Regions from separate parts of the Homo sapiens genome. Here all the other regions are linked to region 2. Evidence: fine-mapped expression QTL. A gene starts in region 2. Each other region holds a variant in brackets. All regions are shown on one strand. Distances are from middle to middle.

The links. PIP is the estimated chance that this variant, and not a neighbour inherited with it, causes the effect.
Region 1: its variant is the best candidate, but not a certain one, in a credible set for the expression of CEP104 in left ventricle (GTEx, PIP 0.61).
Region 3: its variant is the best candidate, but not a certain one, in a credible set for the expression of CEP104 in regulatory T cells (Bossini-Castillo 2019, PIP 0.56).

The regions. Positions count from the first base shown.
Region 1 is chr1:3,599,609-3,602,359 of GRCh38, reverse strand. All of the region lies in intron 2 of MEGF6 (multiple EGF like domains 6), which reads left to right. Among named protein-coding and RNA genes, the nearest start is that of MEGF6, 11 kb to the left of the region's middle. The variant G/A (reference allele first, on the strand shown) is at 1,291.
Region 2 is chr1:3,855,928-3,858,678 of GRCh38, reverse strand. It overlaps CEP104 (centrosomal protein 104), which reads left to right and starts at 1,468. Exons shown (of 22, transcript NM_014704.4): 1 at 1,468-1,790. It overlaps DFFB (DNA fragmentation factor subunit beta), which reads right to left and starts at 1,203. Exons shown (of 7, transcript NM_004402.4): 1 at 962-1,203. The coding sequence starts at 1,075. RefSeq lists silencers at 322-371, 1,302-1,801 and an enhancer at 982-1,161.
Region 3 is chr1:3,808,060-3,810,810 of GRCh38, reverse strand. No RefSeq gene overlaps it. Among named protein-coding and RNA genes, the nearest start is that of LRRC47, 13 kb to the right of the region's middle. The variant G/A (reference allele first, on the strand shown) is at 1,049.

The DNA of each region.
Region 1 (2,751 bases), 260 kb after region 2:
GGCCACACGCAACCCCTGCCTGAAGCCCTCATCTGAGCATGAGGCCTCTCCCACCCTCAGGGTGGGTCTGCCATGGGGCTACTCACATGCTGTAGCCCTCTCCTGTTTAGCCGAGCACCTGAGTCCTTTGTGAGGGGTGTGTGGAGGAGGAGGGGCCCAGCCCGGGAGGATGCTGGCCACGCAGGAAGGGGAGAGTGGTCTCAGCCTGCCAGGGGCCCGGTGGGAGGCTGCTGCTTCTTGGCCCTAGGGCCTTGTTCCCCAACACACGTGAAACTTTTTACTGCGCAAGATTTTATTTCAACACCGAACTTGAGTGCCTGTGCACACCTCTCCCCCTTTTATAGACTCAGGCTCTGCAGAGCCAGCCCTGCCGCAAAGCGGGTTGTGCCGGGAGCTGGCAGCCCCCGTGTCAGGTGGAGAGTTTCCGTGTGTCTGTGGGAGGGAAGGCAGGAACGCATTCTCAGAGAAGATCGTGGCTAGCTTCTCAGCCTGGGATCTGCGGAGGAGCCGAGGCCCTGCTCTGCGCTGCTCCCTTGGGCATGGGGTCCACGCGGGACACCTGCACCTGCTGTACCTGCTCCAGGGGGCTCTGGCAGCTTTCTGGTCAATGTGTGTTTGCTGCGCAATTCAGATGTGTTCAGAGTAGAGGAGAAAAAAACCGTTAAGCAATAATGGTGGTTCTCACTCAGGGGCAGTTCTGTCTTCCTACCCCGGGACAGTGGAGATGTGGAGTCAGGTTTGGTGACAGGTGAGCTGGGCAGGCTGAGGGGGCCAGGGATGCTGCTGAGCATCTCAGCACACAGGACGACCCCCCGAACAGACGACCCGGCCCAGTACCAGGAGGGCTGAGGTTCAGGGATCCTGAGCCCCCAAAACAAGAGATCTCAGGAGGGCTGAGGTTCAGGGACCCTGAGCAAAAAGAAGAAATCTCCTCTCATTGTTTTCCCCAAAATAGCAGCTTGCAGTCTGTCCTGACTGTCACCCATGCGTGGATGCGGGCCTGCCCTGTGGATGTCATGCGTGCATGGATGCAGGTGGATTTCCCTGCGGGAATTTGTTTGCATCAGCCAGGTCTCCCGCCAACAGCTCGTGGTGGAAGAGCTCTGTTTCTAGAAGCAGCCAGAAGCCATCTGAGCCCAGGGCTGGAGAGAGTGCTGGTGGCCGGGCTGAGGAAGTCCCCTCGCTATGGGGGCATGATTTCTCCATTGTGGTCTCTAGGCTAGCCTGAAGGCAGGGTGGGAGCAGCATTGCCGATGTGCCGGGGTCCTCAGCCTCCTGGCAGGGCACTGG[G/A]GGCAGCCGTGGACAAAGTCCCCCTGCTTGGAGGGGGGGGCACTGGCAGGGGATCCCCTCCCGGCATTACCCAATGCAGGGTGTCCGGGCCTCTTCACCAACCCTCCCTCCCGAAAGGTGGCCATTCTGCCTCAAGGTCCTGGGCTTGTCATGGGGGAGGGGCCGAGGTCCACCTCCGAGGACCCTGGGCTGTTCTCACCTGGCCCCCGCTCCTGGGGGAACCAGAGGCTTCTTACCACCCTGGTGCCGGGGGGATGGGCGTCCTGTGTGCTCTACTGGAACCAGCCCCAAGTGAGGTGGTGACATGTGGCCTGGGCCCCTGTCCCTTTGGGATGCTTCTGGGGCTGTTCGTGGGCACAGGGTGCTCCCAAATCCCACGTTTCCAATTTGTGTCCCCTCCCAAGCTGCTGGAGGCTGAATCCAGCTGTGCAGCCTCGGGGGAGTCTCCTCAGATGCCAGGTCCAGATATCACTCCACGCGGCAAGACTTTGGGTGGTGCCTGGAGCACCGGCCTGAGGCTTGCTCCCTTCATCCCTCCCAGGAGCCAGCCCTGTTCCCCGCCCTCCAGCTCCCGCCTGTCCTCCTTCAGAGCATTGCTTCTCCTCCTCTGCCATCAGGAGTCCCCGTCCCTAACCCTGAGCCCTTGCCCATTTGCCCTCGAGCCCCCAGTGCTTATGACCAGGTTCCCAACTCACTGTGGAACTGGTGGGGACCCCAGCATCCCAGCTGGGCTCTGGGTGCCATCGTGGAGGTGGGCACAGGCCACTCCTCCTGTGCCCACAGGGACAGCTCTGCCACACAGCAGATACCTGGGTATGTGTGGCTGGGCTCAGCAAGGGCAGCGCTGCTCATTGGCTTGGCCACCATTCAGCCGGGGCACTGAGCATTTGAGGCCCCTGGGTTCTGGGGAGATGCAGGGAAGGCAGCCCGGGCTGGGGAGATGCAGGGAAGGGCTGGGCAGGCTCCTGGCGCTGCAGCCCAGGCCGGGGCAGCTGAGGCGGGACCCCACAGCACTGTGGCACTGAGGGGTGACTCAAGGGTGAGCTGGTGCCATGGGAGGCTCGTGGTTTCATCGCTGGTTCCACCCCTACCAGCCTGGCGACGTCAGCCTCCTTTTTCTCACCCGTGAACTGAGCTGACAGTATTTCCTGGGCCTGGGGTCGTGCCTGTCAGAGCCTAACCCTTTCTGGGCTGCCTGGCACAGCCCAGAAACGGGGCACAGAAACGGGGTGCCCACGCGCAGAACAGCCCCAGCAGGGCAGGGTCAGGGGCTGGCCTGGGCTTCCTCAGGCCCTGGAGTGAGGAGCAAGCATGAGTGCTGGCCGGCAGGGCACCACGCACGCCCCTCAGCCTCTACGCACCTCCATCTGCCACCTCGCCAGCCGGGCCGAGACTGCCGCCAGGCCCTCCACCGTCACACGACTGGGTGACTGGTGACTCGGGCTGTGAGGCCACAGCTAG
Region 2 (2,751 bases):
CAAGACGAGGGCTTTGCATCTGCAGGCCTCACAAACGACCGGAATGAGCTGTGCTTAAAGAAGCAGGCTCAGGCTGCCGCCTGTATGCCACAGTCGCTCCAACGCCCAGGCAAGGATGAGGGAGCGGGAGCAAGGGCGCCTGACTGCGGGCCGTTCTAAAATACGAAGAGTCAGGAAAAACATACATCAGGGGGTGACTGCTGGCTCTGCAGGATTCACCCTTTTTAAATGAGCTCCTGAGGGCGCTTCAAATAGAGCCTGTCTTTGACAGCGCCGCCTCCCTGCTGCCAGGAGCTGAACACCACCATCCCCAGCACACAGCCGCCAGAGCGGTGCTGGCACACGAAGGAGAACGGTTGGTTGCCTCTGTGCACAAGTGTGACCGGCACGTGGCACTGTTAATTTGTTGGAGTCCGGTTCCCTGTTACTCTGCACTGGTCAGTTTTAGGCATTTTATGGCTACTCCCACCCCACCCGCACCGACCCCGGCAATGCACACCTGGTAACCCTAGTACTGGTCTAAAAAGAAAACCAACCTAGAATAAGGTGACGATTGCAATCCCCAGCTGCGAGGGCTGGAAGGGGCCTGCAGAGCCCACCTAGCCAAGCCTTTCATGTTACTCAAGGGGAAGCTGAGGCCGGACAGGCAGAGCAGCCGTGACCCCGCGTGCCAGTACCTGGCACTCTACCCGGGTCTCCTAGCTCTGATGCAGGGCTGTCCTGCCCGAGAGGTGGGAAGAGGGAAGGGGTGATCCAGGTCGTCCCCCAACCCCCCTGCGTTCTGAAGCCACGCTCAGGAACCCCAGGCTGCGGGGGCCCGGGGTCCTAGCGGCTGAGGCGAACGAAAACTACCCGCCCCGGGCGCCGCCTGCACCCTCCGTTTTGGAAGAGGAAAAGCGGCACCTCCTATTCTCCCCACACGCCTCCCCGACGGGCCGTCCCCGCCTAGCCCAGCGGGCACCTGGAAGCGGAGACAGCCCTTGCGCAGCACCTCCTGGCAGCTCCGGCCAGCCACGCCGAACTTCCTCGGGCTGCGCAGGGCCCGCAGCTTCACGCTCTTGGGCTTCTGGAGCATTGCAGATGTCCTCAAGCCCTCTGGGTCCCACAGGCGGTGGCACCTGCTGCCCAGCTGCTCAGATCCGTCCTCGCCCTGGCCGCAGGGGTCTGCACCTGGTGAGCTCTGCAAGCTGGCACAGGCCGGGTGCCGATCCCGGAAACTACATTACCCAGAAGGCCTGGGAAAAGTGAGGCCCGACGCGGTCTTGTGCGCAGGCGTCGCCCCACGGACACCACATTACCTTACTCAGAAGGCTCAGGAAAGCAAAGGCGCGACGCCACCTGGTGTGCCCAGGTGCCGTGGCCCCGGAAACTACACAACCCTGAGGGCCAGAGTAGCGGAGCCCTCCCCTTGTGCGCAGGCGCGGCCTGGGGTGGGGCGGGGTCGCGCACGCGCAGAGGCCCTGGCCCAGGGCTGGGCTTGGTTGTCATGAGAGTGGAGGCTGCGGCCGGGGCTATGGGCAGAGGTGGCCGGGTCTGCTTCTTCCCTGTCACTGCCGCAGCAGCTTGGGGTGCAAGGCGGCCTGGGGCGGCGGAAGGGGCGCCCCCCGAGTTCCGTCTGAGGAAGCGGCGGCTGCCGAGGAAGTCCACGAGAGCCGGGTCCCGCACGCCCCTGGGGTCCGGGTGCTGAGGCGCCGCCTGGCCGCCTCCCCGGGCCGCGGCACCGCTCCGACCCAGCCGCCCTCTCCACCGGGGCCGCGGCAGCGCCAGTCGGGGCCCTTCCCTCTAAGCAGGTACCTTCCGGGCCGCTGCGGCGCCGGCCCAGGGCCGGAGTGGGGAGCGGGGCGCGGGGCGCGGGGCGCGGGCGCCGCGGGGGCGCGGTCCCCACCTGGGAGCTGGGTACGAAGCCTGGGTGCGCGGTGCAAGCGCGGACGGTGTGGAGTTAGATGCCGGCCTTGCTGTCGCCGAAGAGCCGGCGCGGCCCCGTCGTGCCGTATGCCGGGGAGCTCAGCACGGGTGCTGGGACCGCCTGCCCCGGCCGGGACGGCCCATTTAGCGTGGAATATTGTTTTCAGATCCGGCTTTTCCTCTTCTGGATGCGTAGCACATAGGGGGCCAGTTTCAGATGTGTTCTGCTGAGCAAAAGTTTGAGGAAAATTGCTCTGTCCCTATAGAGATTAAAGTCTGATGGTTGGTTGTTTTTTGTTTTGGAGTTTGTTTTGTTTTGTTTGCACTTAAGTTCAGATTTCTCTGAAGCCCTTTCAGTCGCTAAGATGACTTGATCAGAAACCCATAAGCCTTTGAGACGGTCTCGCTCTGTCGCCCAGGCTGGAGTGCAATGGCACGATCTCAGCTCACTGCAGCCTCCGCCTCCCGGGTTCAAGCGATTCTCCTGCCTCAGCCTCCCGAGTAGCCCGACTAATTTTTTTATTTTTAGTAGAGACGGGGTTTCACCATGTTGGCCAGGCTGGTCTCGAACTCCTGACCTCAAGTAATACGCCCTCCTCGGCCTCCCGAAGTGCTGGGATTACAGGCATGAGCCACCGCGCGCAGTCACACTTAAAAGTCTTCTTAAAAAGAAAATCAGAGACAAGTTTTGTTTCCTAGTCTTGTAACAAAATGGAAGTTGCTACACTGAGTTTCCGTTTAATTTATAGTTAATTGCCTTTTACCATGCCAGCACTAGGAAAAGTGTAGTGAGGGATGAGACCGCCATGGAGTCATCGCTGCCTGGGGAGAGATGTACTCTGGCAT
Region 3 (2,751 bases), 48 kb after region 2:
CTCAGCCTCCCAAGTAGCTGGGACTACAGGCACCTGCCACCACACCTGGCTAATTTTTGTAATTTTAGTAGAGACAGGGTTTTACTATATTGGCCAGGCTGGTCTCGAACTCCCAACCTCAGGTGATCCACCCACCTCGGCTTCCCAAAGTGCTGGGATTACAGGCGTGAGCCACTACGCCCAGCCTGGACCTTTTTTTTTTAATTCCAGAGACAGGGTCTCACTCTGTTGCCCAGGCTGGAGTGCAGTGGTGCTACCATGACTCACTGCAGTCTCCAACTCCAGGGCTCAAGCCATCTTCCCACGTCAGTCTCCTGAGTAGCTGGGACTACAGGCACAAGCCACCACCCCCAGCTAATTTTTGTATATATATGTATAGTAGAGGTGGGTTCTCACCATGTTGCCCAGGCCCCCCACAAACTATTTGATCACCAACATCAGTGTCCTCAGCAACCCATTTGCCTCTGTAATGTGGATTTCACACCTCCTGTGTTGTGGCAGACTGCTGTTACTACTTGAGACCATCATTATGAGACTGAAGGAAGAGGGACAAACATAGAAATGAAAACTTAAAACAAAAGTAACTATTTTAACGGAAGGGTAACACGGGGAAGAAGAAGAGAGCTCCCTGCTTCTAGTGAGCAAAGGCACCGCCCGAGCTTCCACAGCCCTTCCTATTTATTGGGTAGCAGGAGGAGGGAGGAGGAGGTAACGATCGGTCAGCTGCTTAATTGATCACAGGTTCATATTGTTACTAACAGGCTTCAGATGTACCTAATCACAAGAAACACTGTGCTTGAGGCGTGACTGCCCTCAGCATTCCTTCTAGGTGGCAGACGCAGTTTGTTTGCCAACATTCTGCATGTATGAGAAACAGTTTGCTGTTTACTCACGTCGCCTCCAGTGGTATACTGAGTTGATCATGACCCTCACTCTTTCAGCGTGCAACACTGTGTTACTCTAGGTAGCAGCGTCAGGCAGCATTCTGTTTCCTGGTGCTGGGAGGTGAATGTGCCCCACAAATTCACAGGCTGGAAACTCACTGCCC[G/A]GTGCAACAGTATAGACAGGTGGGGCCTGACCATAGGCCCTGCCCTCATGGTTGGATTTGTGCAACAATAAAAGGACTTGGGGCCAGACACAGTGGCTCACACCTATAAACCCAGCCTTTGGGAGACCGAGATGAGAGGATCACCGGCGTCCAGGAGTTCAAGACCAACCTGGGCAACAAAGAGAGACCCCATCTCTACAAAAAATATAAAATTAGCTGGGCATGGTGGCATGTGCCTGTAGTGCCACCTATTTGGGTAGCAGAGGCAGGAGGATCACATGAGCCCTGGAGGTCAAGGCTGAAGTGAGCCATGATCATGCCAGTGCACTCAGCCTGGGTGACAGAGTGAGACCCTGTCTCAAAAAAAAAAAGTGGGCCGGGCGCAGTGGCTCATGCCTGTAATCCCAGCACTTTGCGAGGCCAAGGCAGGCAGATCACCTGAGGTCGGGAGTTCGAGACTAGCCTGACCAACATGGAGAAACCCCGTCTCTACTAAAAATACAAAATTAGCCAGGCGTGGTGGCACATGCCTGTAATCTCAGCTACTTGGGAGGCTGAGGCAGGAGAATCACTTGAACCCGGGAGGTGGAGGTTGCGGTGAGCCGCGATCGTGCCATTGCACTCCAGCCTGGGCAACAAGAGTGAAACTCCATCTCAAAAAAAAAAGTGGGTGGGGGGTCTTGGGTGTGGGATCCCCCTCCACCTTCCACCCTGTGAGGACACAGCCTGCCTTCCCTCTCTCCCTCCAGAGGATGCTTGGACTCCCAGCCTCCACGGCTGTTAGAAAGAAACCTCTGCTTTCTATAAATTACCCTGTCTCAGGTATTTTGTTATAACAAGCAGACTAAGACACCTGATCCTCTTTGTTTATTATTGTTTGAGATTGGGTCTTGCTCTGTCATCCAGACTGCAGTGCAGTGGTGTGATCTCAGCTGGTTGCAACCTTCAACCTCCTGGGCTCAACTGATCCTCCTGCCTCAGCCTCCTCAGTAGCTGGAACTACAGGCACATGCCACCACACCCAGCTAATTTTTACATTTTTGTACAGGGGAATCTCACTATGTTGCCCAGGCTGGTCTGGAACTCCTGAGCTCAACTGATCCTCCCACCTCAGCCTCCCAAAGTGCTGGGATTACAGGTGTGAGCTACTACACCCCCTGAGTGGTCCTGTCTAAAATGCATCCAGTGGCCAGGCATGGTGGCTCACACCTGTAATCCCAGCACTTTGGGAGGCCAAGGCAGGCAGATTACTTGCGGTCAGGAGTTCGAGACCAGCCTAGGCAACATGGTGAACCCCTGTCTCTAGTAAAAATACAAAAATCAGTCAGGTGTGGTGGCAGGTGTCAGTAATCCCAGCTAGTTGGAGGCTGAGGCAGGAGAATTGCTTGAACCCAGGAGGTGGAGGTTGCAACGAGCCAGGATTGCGCCACTACACTCCAGCCTGGATGACAGAGTGAGACTCCATCTCAAAAAAAAAAAAGTGTCCAGTGCTGGGAGTTGCCCCATAAGAAGAGAGTGGCTGGTGCTCAGTGGAGGTGCTCAAGCTAAGGGTGCCCTGTCCCCTGACCCTAGCCACCCTGACCTTGGCTTCTCAGCTGTCTCCTCAACTCTGGGAGTCTGCTGGGCTCTGCCACCCAGGCTGGAGTGCAGTGGTGAGTTTGATATGGTTTGGATCTGTGTCCCTGCCCACATCTCATAATGAA